Linked DNA regions of Homo sapiens. The protein of the gene in region 1 interacts with the protein of each later gene in a pairwise test. Each region holds a gene or a part of one and is shown on either strand. Other genes may lie near its edges.

Region 1 (3,500 bases):
AAACACTCCTTAGAACAATTACTTTTTAAGGAGGCAGAAAATACATATACACCATAAAATAAATAATAAACCATATAAATATACATGCCACTCTGCCACATAACAGTCAAGTGGTGACTGAAACAGTGGGACTATTTGTCATCACTAGGGAAATACTTTATAACTAAGTTGTAGTTAACTATGTAAATGACAGAGTTTGGTTCAGTTTTACAAACAACAGATTATAAAATTTGTCTCCTTCAATAAAAGAGACAGTTATCAGGCCTTATGTGCTATATGCTCTTTGTAAATAATAAGAAATTGTAGCTCCAGCAAACTGCCAACTCCTCTGGCTCTACAGCTGTGTATGCTACCCAACTCTCCTACTAATAAAAATGTTATTTAAGGTTTTTTGAGGACTACAAAGCATTTTTTAAAGCACTATATTCAAGCAGCTAAGACGCACAGTCTAAAATGGTGATTTACAACTGGTATGCTGAGGTTGGTTGTATAGTATGTGGCAAGTAATTTGTTTCTAACAATAGAGTAGTAAAGTTGGCAGGGTATTTTTAAATATAAAACTAATATTCCTGATAATATTATCAGTCTCACCAGTGATATTCCAACATTCTTTCTTGAGTGAGAGTCAAAAGACAAATTAGCACTAAGAGGTCCTGGGAACAATATATGGGCCAAAGCCCATTATTACTATAAAAGAAAGAATAATGGCTATTTTGGGGGGGAAGAAAGATTATGATTGGGATGGGGCACATTGAAAAGTTTGTGGGGTGCCTAGAAAAGTTCTATTTCTTGACTTAGTTATAATTACAAGAGTTCTAGACGTTTGCCTTATAACTCATTAATTTATACATTGGTATTGTGTGGTTTTCCGTATCTAGTTTCATTTACAATAAAATCTTTTTAAAAACCAATAAAGCAAGAGAAACTCTAATAGCTGTGAGGCTAACTGAGACCGTGGTACAGCTCACTTAATCTTTTATTATCTTTTGGAAAAAGTGGGGGTACAAATGAAAATATACTTTTAACCTCAGCTTTTTGTATGTAAAGTTAGGATAAAACAAACACCCCGTATACCACTAGGGATTTTGGTGCTGATTTAATGAAAGTCTACTTGTAAAAATATTTTGAAATACTTTGAAATTCTGTAACATTCTCTGCAAATGCAAAGTATTCTTAAAACCACATAGAATAAACAATAGTCTCACTTCCTTGCTTAAAGCCCTTCAATGACACCACCCATTTAGCAGTAATTTTCATAGTGTTCTTTGTGGAAACCTAAGACTCCACAGACATGCTTCAGGGGCAGGGCATCATGTACAGATATGCAGATTGTGCTTTGCACAACGGTGCCTGGCACAAGTGGATCTAAAATCTGGCCTTCATTGTTCGCCAAGCCTTGAACCTTAGTGAAGAGACATTTTCCTTTGCATGTCGAGAGGGAGCTCCTTTTCCTAAACTGTTCAGAGACTCTCTAAGTGCTAGCTGTAGTTCTGTTCAAAAGTTCCCCATTAAACAGTACCTTATTTCTGTCAAAAAATAAAAACAAACTGTCTGCAAGTCTTCTTCAAAGTTAAGACAACACAAACACATTTTATATTTGTAATTCCTTCATTTACAAACATATTTGAGCATTTGAGTTCCTCTTCTGTGAGTTGCCTGTTCATATTCTTTGCCCATGTTTCCCATTGGGATTTTTTTTCTGAAATCACAGAAGCTAATTCTAAATTAACCTGTCAGTTATGCACATGTTATAAATCTTCTCCCAGTCTGTGAAAACTTACACATTGCAAGTGCAAGTGTAAACTGGTAATAATCCTTTTGAAAACAATTTAGCAATAACCAGTAGAGATGAAGGGATAGGCCAGGCCTAGTGGCTCACACCTGTAATGCCAGAATTTTGGGAGGCCAAGGCGGGCAGATAACTTGAGGTCAGGAGTTCGAGACCAGCCTAGCCAATAAGGCAAAAACCTGTCTCTACTAAAACACAAAAAATTAGTTGGGCATGGTAGTGCATGCCTGTAATCCCAGCTACTTAGAACGCTGAAGCAGGAGAATCACTTGAACCCGGGAGGCGGAGACTGCAGTGTGCCGAGATTGTGCCACTGCACTCCAGCCTGAGTGACAGAGCCAGAATCCATCTCAAAAAAAAAGAAGGTATAAAGGTATACATGTCCCAGCTATTCTTAGGAAAACTCTCATACATGAGTACAAGGAGGTACTCACAAGGCTATTCATTAGAATACCATTAGTAATAGCAAAAAAGTAAAAACAATGATGGCCTTCATAATCTAAATAAACTTTCCCATCTAATTTTCCATCCTTTCCCTCTTTTCTCTGAAATTTTATTCATTCATTCATTCATTCATTTGCTGCCTTAAGGAATATTACTAGACACCTACTCTGACTAGACACCATGCTAGGTAGGCAATCATGCTTAATTACTTGCAGTTACCCTACTAAACCATGGTCTCTTACTGGCTAAAGAGACTTTTCCTGTCCTTCCTCTGGGTTTTGACATAATTTTGTACATATCCCTGTTAAACTACTTATCAGTACTCCATAATACTTGTTATTCAATTATCTAGCTACAAAATAAGTGAAGGCAGTCCCAAATCACACATTCAATTAAATATCTGAACAAAGGGCAATTCTGTTTTTTAAAATTCCATCCAACAATTACCAAAAAAAAAAAAAAAAGTATTTTCTAAGCGAATATTCAGTGCTAGAATACTACTTTCATGAGGATGTCATGAAAGTATTTGTTATCATGGTATCCCCAGCACCTAGATCATTGCCTGACACATAAGAGTCACTCAATAAATAATTGTTAAGACCAAAAAGCCCAAGCAATATTATCTGACAAATAATAATATTTAAAAGTGAAAACAGAATCGTTAATTTATGTAGATGTTTTATCACTGAATAAGTAAAAGCTGTTTTCCCTCTTAAATAAAAAGTATTTTTTCTTTCATGGTGAGTTGCCCTCACATCTTCCCACCAAATACTTTTAGGACATGTCCCAATGAATTTCTTTGCTATACAAGGTTATCAGAGACTCAACATCAATCATTTTCTTCTCTGTGTTACTAACACAGAAAAATTCCCACATTAACTATGAAAGGCTGGAATTGCAGCATTACTGTTAGATATATAACATTTTATATTATAAAATACACTAAAAGTAAAAATAGATAAAAGTATGCCTACTACCTAAAAGACTGCCCTGTTAAAGACTGAATAATGAAATCACACATACACACATATACACCCACACATTTCCATTTGTTAAAAAGTTATTTGCATAGTTTGAGTTGAGAAAATGTTATGCACTAAAAGGCATATAAATCTAGTATGTATCAGGCCTCATTTGTGCTACATTCTATATTAGTATTCTACTGTATAATATAGTTAAGAATATTTATATAAAAACAAGACATAAAGATTTAAGCTCTCTCAGTTATTAAATGCAACAGCATCAAAATGGCTTACCAAGTTATCAT
Region 2 (4,189 bases), on another chromosome or scaffold:
GCTCAAGGGATCCACCTTCCTCAGCCTCCCTAAATTCTGGGATTAAAGGTGTGAGACGCCACACACATCCATGGCCAGGGGTCTTAAAGGCCCCATTTTATGGATGAAGGTCCTGAGGCCCTTGGAAGCAAACAAGTTTACAAAACACCCAGGCTCCATTAGGAAGTGAAGCGCTCCATGCATTTCCTGAGGCTGTTTTCACAAGGTGCCAGTAACCCGGGGGCTTAAAATAACAGGAATATATCCTTTCCCAGTTCTGGAAGTCTGAGATCAAGGTGTGGGCAGGGCTGTACTCCCTCTGAAGGCTCTAGGGAAAAGCTCGGGTATGGTGGCTCATACTTGTAATCCCAGCACTTTGGGAGGCTGAGGCGCGAGGATCACTTGAGCCCAGGGGTTCAAGACCAGCCTGGCCAACATGGTGAAACCTCGTCTACTAAAAATACAAAAAAAATAGCCAGGTGTGGTGGCACATCCCTGTAAACCCAGCTACTCAGGAGGCTGAGGCACGATAATTATTTGAACCTGGGAGACAGGGGTTACAGTGAGCCAAGACTGTGCCACTGCACTCCAGCCTGGGCAATGGAGCAAGACTCTATCTCAAAAAGAAAAGATAAGGAAAAGAAGAAACAAAAGCTCTCAGGAAAAATCCTTCCGCCTCTTCCAGCTACTGGGGTCATGAGTATTGTCCTTATAAGAGAAAGAGACAGCTGGACTAGGTGACTCACGTCTGTAATCCCAGCATTTTGAAAGGCCAAGGCGGGCAGACCACGAGGTCAGGAGTTCGAGACCAGCCTGGCCAACATGGCAAAACCCCCGTCTCTACTAAAAATACAAAAATTAGCTGGGTGTGGTGGCGTGCACCTGTAATCCCAGCTACTCGAGAGGCTGAGGCAGAATTGCTTGATCCTGTGGGGTAGAGATTGCAGTGAGCCGAGATCGTGCCACTGCACTCCAGCCAGGTGACAGACCGAGACCCCATCTCAAAAAATAAAAATAAAAACAAAAAAGGAGAAAGAGACACAGGGAAGAAGGCCACATGATGATGCAGGCAGAGCTTGGAGTGATGTGGCCCCAAGCCAAGGGACACCAACTATGGCAGGCCACCCCCAGAAGCTGGAAGAGACAGAGAAGATCCTCCCGCCAGAGCCTTCAGAAGCACCACGGCCCCACCACATCTTCATGTTGGGCTTCTGGCCTCCAGACTTGTGAGAGAATAAATTTCAAGCCTCCCCCTGCCCCCTGGTTTGTGGTGCATTGTCACAGCAGCTCCAGGAGGCTCATGTAAGAACCAAAGGCGCCGGGCGCAGTGGTCACTTTGGGAGGCCGAGGTAGGTGGATCACCTGAGGTCAGGAGTTCGATACCAGCCTGGCTGGCCAACATGGAGAAACTCTGTATCTACTAAAAATATAAAAATTAGCCAGGCGGGGTGGCGTGCACCTGTAATCCCAGCTACTTGGGAGGCTGAGGCAGGAGAATCACTTGAACCCACGAGGTGGATGCAGTGAGCCGAGATCGTGCAACTGCACTCCAGCCTGGGCAATAGGGCGAGACTGTCTCAAGAAAAAAAAAAGAAGAAGAAAAAGAAACCAACCTGTTTGGGTAGGGGAGAGTTCAGGGAGGTTGGGGTTGCTAGAGCAGCAGAAAGGTCAGCTGCCTCCCTCATTCCTCAACATGGGTGGTGGGTATAAACAGAATAGACCCTTGCAGCTGCGCGGTGGCTCACGCCTGTAATCCCAGCACTTTGGGAGGCTGAGGCGGGTGGATCACCTGAGGTGGGAGTTCGAGACCAGCCTGGCCAACATGGTGAAACCCCGTCTCTACTAAAAATGCAAAAATTAGCCGGGCGTGGTGGCATACGCCTGTAATCCCAGCTACTTGGGAGGCTGAGGCAGGACAATGGCTTGAACCCGGGAGGCGGAGGTTGCAGTGAGCCGAGATCATGCCATTGCACTCCAGACTCCGTCTCAAAAAAAAAAAAAAAAGGACCCTTGCTGTCTTATCACCAGGACAGCGGTGCTAACGTATAAGTGAGGTCTCTCCCTCAGGGCGCTGTGGACACTGGAGCCTGGGTCATTCTCTGGGCTGGGCAGGGTGCTGAGTTGCATCCCTGGCCTCCACCTACTCCATGCCAGGAACTGCCCCCAGTTATGACAACCACAGACGTCCCCAGACATCGCCCGGTGTCCCCTGGAGGGCAGGACCGCCCCTCGCTCAGACCCTCTGATGTGGCCTCACTGCAGTGCGAGCGTGGCAGCCCCTCTCTGCCTTTAGGGTAGAGTCAATGCGTCTTCTCCCTCTCCTTGCAGGCTGGGCCTCGGAAAGCTTATGCGTCTCTCACCCAGGGGCGTTTTCACAGGGCAAGGGCAGACCGTGCCATCCTGGGCGTTGGGGCCCTGGGCGAGCTGCCGGCTCCCGACCCTCCCGTGGGGACCCTATCGCGACAGGGTCATGCCCCGGCCACCCGGCCCCGCCAGACCCAGCCCCACCAGAGCCCCGGCAGGCCCGGCACGGAGGTCGCGGCGCGGGAGGCGGCGGCACTTACGGCTGAGCTGCCGGGAGCCGCGCGCGCCGGCCCAGGTGGGCGCAGGTGACCATCGGGGCGCGCGCTGAGGCGCCAGACAGGGCCCCCGAGGCGGGAGCGCCCCGTGCAGGCCGGCCGGCCTCCCCTGCGTGTCCCTGGGACGCCTCCTCCGCTCGGCTCCTCGGCGCTCGGAGCGGACGCCCCCCGCAGGCGCCCCTCAGGAACTCGCCGCAGCCGCCGCCACCAACCCCGACGCGCGCAGAGGTAAACTCGGCACTGCGCCTGCGCACCCCGAACCTGCGAACTACAAGTCCCAGCAGGCCCCGCAGCGCGGCGCTGGGCTCCTGACTCTCCAACCTGGGTCACAGCGCCGCCTCCGGGCGGGCGGCGTCTCCGCAGGACCACGATGCCCCTGCGGCTGTTGGATCCACCCCGTGTGGTTCGCTGGAGTCCCCGGGTGTTGTGGGGTTCGCGGAGCCAATCCTCAAATCCCAGCTCCGTCGTTTCCCGGCGGCTTGCCATTGGATATTAATAACTACTATTATTTATTAAGCAAGTTATATAAACGTATAATGTATTACATACTTATTAAAATGATTGCTTAAGTAATTGTTGTTTGTTTTTGAGACTGAGTTTCGCTCTTGTCGCCCAGGCTGGAGTGCAATGGCATGATCTCAGGTCACTGAAACCTCCGCCCCCTCGGGTTCAAGCGATTATCCTGCCTCAGTCTCCCAAGTAGCTGGGATTACGGGCGTGCACAACCACACTCGGCTAATTTTTTATATTTTTGGTAGCGACGCGGTTTCACCATGTTGGCCAGGCTGGTCTCGAACTCCTGACTTCCAGTGATCTGCCCGCCTTGGCCTCCCAAAGTGCTGGGATTACAGGCGTGAGCCACCACGCCCAGCCAAATTAAATTATTGTTTAAATATTTATTTAATATTCTACTGATTGTTATTTATGAGAAATTAAAATAGTAAAACTACTATAATTAATATACTGTTGTAGGATACAACAAATTCCTCTTCAAAGGTTTTAGCCTGTAAATTGTTAAGTACAATCAGTTATGAGCTCCTCTCCAAAGAACCAATGTTTCCGTATATTCAGCTCCCCTGTTCTTTTTTTTTTTTTTTTTGAGATGGAGTCTCGCTCTGTCGCCCAGGCTGGAGTGCAGCGGCGCGATCTCGGCTCACTGCAAGCTCCGCCTCCCAGGTTCACGCCATTCTCCTGCCTCAGCCTCCCAAGCAGCTGGGACCACAGGCGCCCGCCACCACGCCCGGCTAATTTTTTTGTATTTTTAGTAGAGACGGAGTTTCACCGTGTTAGCCAGGATGGTCTCGATCTCCTGACCTCGTGATCCGCCTGCCTCAGCCTCCCAAAGTGCTGGGATTACAGGCGTGAGCCACCGCGCCCGGCCACCTATTCTTTGTTCTTCATTTTAAACTTTAACTTCCTCGTTCTTTTCGTTTCCTTGCCCCTAGTTTCAGTAAACAACCCCTCCTAGCCCCTATCACCTGCTCTGACCTTAGTCACCCTTGGTCACCTGCTCTGACCTTAGTCATCCTTGGTCACCTGCTCTGACCTTAGTCATCCTTGTCACCTGCTCTGACCTTAGTCATCCTTGGTCACCTGCTCTGACCTTAGTCATCCTTGGTCACCTGCTCTGA
Region 3 (3,500 bases), on another chromosome or scaffold:
TAGTTACCACCGATTATAAAAAGATCCCCAGCTACGCATGGTGGCACATGCCTCTAGTCCCAGCTACTCAAGAGGATGAGGTGGGAGGATCGCTTGAGCCCAGGAGTTTGAGACCAGCCTGCAATGTAGAGAGACCTCATCTCAAAAATTAAAAAAAAAAAAAAAGAGAGAGAGAGAGATCCCTAAACTTTGGAAAATAACAGTCTAGAAGGGGCTATAGGTGTATTAATCAACAAAATAAACAAGAAACTTAGTTGCATAATCCTTAGATAATTCAGAGTAGAAAAATAATAGTTTTGTTCTGTTTCATGAGTGACAGTATTGAAATGTTTTCCATTTCTTATTTTAAAAGTTTCCTTCATTGGCTGGGCATTGGTGGCTCACATCTGTAATCCTAGCACTTTGGGAGGCCAAGGCAGGAGAATCTTTTGTGCTCACGAGTTCAAGACCAGCCTGGGTAACATAGCAAGACTATGTCTCTATTAAAAAAAAGGAAAGAAAGAAAAGTTTCCTTTGTAAACCCACAATAACCTAATCTGCCAAAAATTTCATCTCTAAGAACACTACTAAGTACAATTTGTGACATATTGCCAATTCCACTGTTATAAAAAATCACTCAGTAAGCTGATTTTAAGTACTGACAATAAGTAAAGAGTAATGCACTTTGTTTCATATCCATTACCAAGTACCTAGTTTTTTGTTTGTTTGTTTGTTTTGAGATGGGGTCTCACACTGTCACCCAGGCTGGAGTGCAGTGGCGCGATCTTGGCTCACTGCAACCTCCACCTCCCAGGTTCAACCAGTTCTCCTGTCTCAGCCTCCCGAGTAGCTGGGACTACAGGCGCCTGTAACCATCAAGTACCCAGTTTTTAAATATCTCCTGGATTGGACACATATCTAACATAATATTTTCATATGGTATTGGTATTTAATATAATACGGTAATTCCATATTATTTTCATTTACTGTATACCACTTTGGACTTACATTTTTTGTTGTTGTTGTTGAGATGGGTTCTCACTCTGTTGCCCAAGCTGGAGTGCAGTGGCGTCATTACAGCCCACTGAAGCCTCAAACTCCCAGGTCAAGCCATCCTCCCACCTCAGCCTCCCAAGTAGCTGGGACAAGTGCACACCACCACACCAGGCCAATTTACTTTTATTTTATTATTATTTTTTATGAAACAGGGCCTCACCATGTTGCCCAGGCTGGTCTCAAATTCCTGGCCTCAAGAAATCCTCCCACCTTGGCCTCCCAAAGTGCTGGGATTACAGGTGTGAGCCACTGTGCCCAGCCCTTAAATTTTTTAAGTAACTTTTTAATTAAAAAAAAAACTTTTAATTTTGGATGCAAAAACCAGATTTCAATTAGACTGAAAAAATAACCTCATTCAGAATCACTAGGGATAAAAGTATTTTGATGAGTTATATAGTAATATTAATTAATAAAGTTATACACAGATTACTTTTCAAACAATCTATATATATTATAAATAAATTATAATTATTGTTTCATTATTGCATCTTTTTTTTAGTGATCCAAAAGGCCTTGGTGTCATCCTTATGATTTTTTTTTTTTTTGAGACAGGGTCTTGCTCTGTTGCCCAGGCTGTGGCATGCTCATGTCAGTGCAGTGGCATGCTCATGGCTCACGGTAGCCTCGACCTCCCAGGCTCAAGCCATCTTCCTACCTCAGCCTTCCAAGTAGCTGTTACTACAGGCATGTGCTACCACACCTGGCTAATTTTTGTAGTTTTTGTAGAGTCAGGGTTTTACCATGTTGCCCAGGCTGGTCTTGAAGTCCCAGGCTCAAGCAATCTGCCCGCCTCAGCCTCCCAAAGTGCTAGGATTACAGGCGTGAGCCACCACTCCTGGCCTCATCCTTATAATTTCTAATTATCATAAATATACCAGTTAATATGGAGCTAAATTTAATAAAGGCTAAATAGCAGAGTACATTCTATGGCCTTGTGATGTGTAGGGTCTCTTTTCAAAATAATTAATGAATCCTTAGGACAAAAGACATTTATTGAGCACCTACTATAGGCAAGTTTCTGTGTTAATCACTCAGTTCTTCTCATACATGGTCTGGAACTATAGCTTGACATATGAGCCAATTATCATTGGACATCTATCTAGGCCAGGTGCAGTGGCTCACTCCTGTAATCCCAGCACTTGGGAAGGTTGAGGCGGAAGGATCACTTGTGGCCAAGAATTCAAGACCAACCTGACCAACATAGTGAGACCCCCATTTCTACAAAAAATGAAAGATAATAAATCAGCAGGTCATGGCGGTTTGTACAATAAATTACCAGGTTATGGTGGTGGATGCCTGTAGTCCTAGCTACTCAGAAGGTTGAGGCAGGAGGATCGTCTGAGCCTAGGAGTTTGTGGTAGCCTGGGCAACAGAGCAAGGACTATCTCTTTAAAAATAATAATAAAAAAAAAAAACTGGATGTCTGATAAAAGATCTACCAATAATCAATAATCTTTTAGTCCTAAATAAGTGTAAGTATATACATTTATATATGAATGAAAAGTTTATAACAATGTATTTTTAAAGTATCACTTGAAAGCGTATGCTATTTTTATGGCATCATCTATATCTTACTGACTGAGAAAACAAATTTCTGCTCATATTCAATGGATATTTTAATGGACTAATTGCGATCCTGAAATCTGCTTATGTAAATTTAACAGTTAAAATTTGGCTTTACACAAAAAAGAATGAAATCATATCCTTTGCAACAACATGGATGCAGCTGGAGGCCATTATTCTTAGTGAATTAACACAGAAACAGAAAACCAAATACCGCATGTTCTCACTTATGACGGGGAGCTAAACACTGGGTACACATGGACTGTTATGAATTAATGTGACCCCCAAATTAGACACTGATGACCCCAAAATGGGGAAGGGTGGGAGGAGGGCAAGGGTTGAAAAACTACCTATAGGACACTATGCTCATTATTTGGGTGACAGGATCAATAGAAGCCCAATCCTCAGCATCACATAATATACTTATGTAAGAAACCTGCACATGTACCCCCTAAATCTAATTTTGTTAAAATTGGCTTTAAGTGACAGTCTAGCAAAAAATATCCAATAACATTTTTGTTTTCCAAGCTTTCTTTTTCAATTATACAGTTTAAGTGCTTAAAAAATTACTGAGCTTTATCAAAGAATTACTAGCCCCAATCTCCTACTTTAAAAATTTATTTAAATAAAATGCATCACAATAAACATAATAAAAAGTACTTTTTCAGCACTATTTTAATTGAATGCAACAAATTCTGAGGGCCTTCTATGAACCAGAAACTGTCCTTCGCATTCAGTGTACAAAAACAAGACACAGTCTCTGTTCTCCAGAAGCTTAAAGACCAGAGGGGGAATAAACACCTACATCAATAAATAATTTCAACACAATGTGGTAGAAGTATACACAGAAAGGAGAGGCCCTTAGCTGAGGTGAAGGAACATGAGAGACTGGGTAGGGGTGA
Region 4 (3,500 bases), on another chromosome or scaffold:
GCCCTGTGTAGGTAGAGAGATGTCTGAGTTCTATATTTACAGTAGCCACACAAAGGAGTTATATGAATACACCCACAGAGTCACCCAACTCTACACAGTTTTAGGGGTTTGTAACATAAAACTCCAATGGAACTGAAGGAGTTCTAGAAAGTATTTAATTTTACCCCCTCCCTTTTATAGATGAAAAAACAAACCTAGTCCCACAGAGCCTTGAGTAATATTGTGGTAAACCGATTAAGACTAATTGCTGGGGGGGGAGGGGGTTTGGCCTAGGACACTGGGTCTTTTCCATAGGGCAGACCCATGATTGGAGACCATTTGCTTTAGAGAACTTGAAAGTCCCGTAGGTCTAGCTCCTTCCCAAGGCTTTGGGCTCTTTATTTTAAAAAGTGATAATGTACCACCTTCTCCCATTATGTATGCACTTTGGAACTTAGTACTAAGTTTGCCAGTGGGAAAATATCTCAAATGGGAAGACCAGAAGGCAATGCCCACTGCGCAACAGAGGTGGGATTCCGATGCAGTTTTACTCTGCTGTGCCTGAGTGGTAACTAGACCTTTCCATTAGCAAATGCACATGGTTGAGAATACATTTCACGCTCTCAAGCAACTTCACCTCCGAGGAGGTGACCGTGCCCCTCATTCCTCATATAAGCACAGATAGTTTTCACTGTCCAATTCCTACTGATCTCTCTCTCCCTCTGTTATTTATTAAAATGTGCAATAGAACAAGAAAAGGAAAAGATTATCCTGCGTCCTGCCATGCAAGATGGTACGTGGGAGGCCAAGGTTAAATGCAGCATTTGGTTTCTTAAGCTTCTCTAATGTATAGGTGTGGAAAAGCAATCTGGGACCAGAGCTTATAGCAGTGACTCTCTGAGGATAAAAACTTGACTTTAATTTGGACTCTCTGGCTAAGATAAAATCTGCTTCTGCTATCATTATCCCACTTATGTTTGTCCTCCACTCTCTTTTCACTCTGCCACCCAGCTGAGTGGGAAGAAATTAACCTGACCTTGAAGAATACTCAGAGAATCTTCAGGACCATCAAGTTTTCAATAGCCAATAAAATTCCAGAGGCCTACTAACATTGAGATTATAGATTCATAGGCCTGAAAAAGACCTCAGACCACACGGATGAGGGAAATGAAGTCCAGAGAGCTAAAGTGACCTATCCAAAGTTATGAGTTAGTTGGAGGCAGGGTCAGAACTAGAAGGGGGACTCAAGCCCTCCGGTTACCCTCTTCCACCTACACCATGACTGGGCTCCAACCATGCCCAGCATATCTCCAGACCACTCAAGAGGGAATATGTGCACAATAGGGCTTTTATAAGATGTCTGAAATTTTACCAGTGCAAATAAAAACTCCCAAGGAGTTTTCTTTTCAAGAAAATTCTTCTTAAAGGTCATAGAAAGGAGGCTTTTATTTCACCATTCTTATGCTTATGGGGTCTCTATCCAGATTAAAATTACGTATTGAATTTTTTTTTTTTTTTTACCTAGATCATGTTTTTTGCCCCAAAAGATTGCTTCCATTTATGTTTCTGCTTCTATCAAACACAGTCTATATTTTTAGTTTTAGATTCAGGCACAGCCTGTGGACTGTGGGTTTGAGCAAAAATAAGGAGTATGGACTGCTCTCCATCCTGGCACCCAAGGACTAAATTCAGCTCACAGTGCATCTTGTTTGTCCCACACACTGTTTTTATAAATTTGATTTTGGGTTCTACAACCAAGATTACTTTACTTATTTACAGGGACTGCTAGGCCCTGAAGACCTCTGCCCTTGCATTTCCTGTCTAGAACTTCTCTCCTCAAGCCTCCTGGGCAAGAACGAAGCCATGGGTGGGTGGGTCCTGAGTCTCAATGGAGAATCTATAGACAGATCTCCAGGGGCAGCTTCTAGAGTCTGCTTTAGACCACCAGACCTCCTATAATGCTGAGTGATCAAAATTAATAAACAAAGTGATCCCCCTACCTGTGCGTCTCTGAAAGGATAATACTTTAGACTCCTATCTATCTTAAAACAACTTGGTTTTGTAAATGTAATCCTTTTCACAGAATTCAGTAAAAGAGTAAAATAAAATTACACTGCAATATTGCAGAAAAGCCTGATACGAGGTATTTGGATAATTTTTGTTTAGAGTGTTACTACCTACCAACACTATTAATTTTTTTTCATCTCAGGAAATGACCTCACCCAAATATAACACACAACCTACTTACATTTATTTTTTTCTAAAGATATGGGAGCATCTGCACAGTTTTAGAAATAATTGTTGTCCTCCAAAGTTTTGTTTTTAAAGCAAAAAACCTAATTGACTGGCTTTCCCTGGTAATCTACATTGCATAGTTCTAAACTAATATCTCTCCAGCAGATTTTTGAATAATGTAAAAAGATAAAGCCCACATGAAAATAAAGGGTTGTAAAATAAAATTTAGGCTATCATACATGAATTTAGTTGATCTTTATTCCCTTAATAATCTTCAAACAAAAACACTTTATAAAGATCATTAGTTTGGAGAGTTAAATATCTTTGCAATTCCTTTTAAACAGTTTTCTTTTTAAAAAGTTCAAACATTCCATGTTCCACAAACTCAAAAAGCCTGCAGCTAGTGTAAAAATTTTTTTTAAACCAAAATATTCTCTATTTCCTTTATACATGCCTGTAGTAAAGGAAAAAAGTCCTTTTATGCCTACCGACACAGATTTGTTTAACATCTTCTCAGTAATGTTTTAAAAAAAATTTGTAGCAAGTCACTCATTTGGTGGTCATCTGTTAGATCCACAGAAGTTAGAGTAACAGCTCCTCTATATTTAAATGTACTCTAAACATATTTATTAAGTTTATAAGTTAAAACTTCAAAAATGAAAAATTAGAATATTCTCTCAGTGTTACAAAGAAAGAAATGTAGCTCTGAGCCTTCATTTGTTGCAAAACCAAAACAAAACAAACAGCCCTGGGATTTCCACGAGAAACTGTTAGGAGAACTTTCGGAAATTCCCCTAAGTTTATTTTCATGAGGCTGCGTGGTCACTTCATCTAAAGTCCTGTCAACAGTCATTCAACAGGGCTTGTCTTCACTGGGATCTCACTGGCCAACAGAAATTTATAAAACACTGACAGTGTTCAGGGAAGGCTGAGGTCCACAGAGCTCAAAACTTTCACCTAACAGGAAGGAATACTGGACTATATCGGACAACTGGGGACACACCTAAGTAATTTCACTCCTCAAGGAAGGGCAATATTTTTCTTTGGTAATTTTACCTATTTTGGTGCCTGGAATAGAGAAATTAGATGGTATATAGGTACATCTAATGTAAGTGTTCTTAAAAAGCATTAAATTAATTTTTTGGAATAATAAAGTTGAATCCCAAATGCTGCCAACATTAAGGTTGCTGTAATCATGCCTTCTGTAAATTTGATGACACCTGCTCTTTCAGTAGGTGTCAAGTGGACAATGAAGACGTTTTTGGACCATGTTCATTTTAGTCCTA

Evidence for each region. Proteins that work in one complex are often made in the same cells at the same time.
Region 2: the proteins of TSEN15 (region 1) and ZNF554 interact in binary tests that used the Homo sapiens proteins (3 or more experiments, as listed by UniProt).
Region 3: the proteins of TSEN15 (region 1) and IKZF3 interact in binary tests that used the Homo sapiens proteins (3 or more experiments, as listed by UniProt).
Region 4: the proteins of TSEN15 (region 1) and POU6F2 interact in binary tests that used the Homo sapiens proteins (3 or more experiments, as listed by UniProt).

The regions. Positions count from the first base shown.
Region 1 is NC_000001.11:184,058,230-184,061,729, reverse strand, and holds part of TSEN15 (tRNA-splicing endonuclease subunit Sen15), read right to left. Parts: exon of another isoform or gene 3,490-3,500; intron 1-3,489. UniProt on the Homo sapiens protein: Non-catalytic subunit of the tRNA-splicing endonuclease complex, a complex responsible for identification and cleavage of the splice sites in pre-tRNA. It cleaves pre-tRNA at the 5' and 3' splice sites to release the intron.
Region 2 is NC_000019.10:2,818,479-2,822,667, reverse strand, and holds the start of ZNF554 (zinc finger protein 554), read right to left. Parts: upstream 2,801-4,189; 5' UTR 2,597-2,800; coding exon 2,544-2,596; intron 1-2,543. UniProt on the Homo sapiens protein: May be involved in transcriptional regulation.
Region 3 is NC_000017.11:39,857,813-39,861,312, forward strand, and holds part of IKZF3 (zinc finger protein Aiolos), read right to left. Parts: intron 1-3,500. UniProt on the Homo sapiens protein: Transcription factor that plays an important role in the regulation of lymphocyte differentiation. Plays an essential role in regulation of B-cell differentiation, proliferation and maturation to an effector state.
Region 4 is NC_000007.14:39,341,409-39,344,908, reverse strand, and holds part of POU6F2 (POU domain, class 6, transcription factor 2), read right to left. Parts: intron 1-3,500. UniProt on the Homo sapiens protein: Probable transcription factor likely to be involved in early steps in the differentiation of amacrine and ganglion cells. Recognizes and binds to the DNA sequence 5'-ATGCAAAT-3'. Isoform 1 does not bind DNA.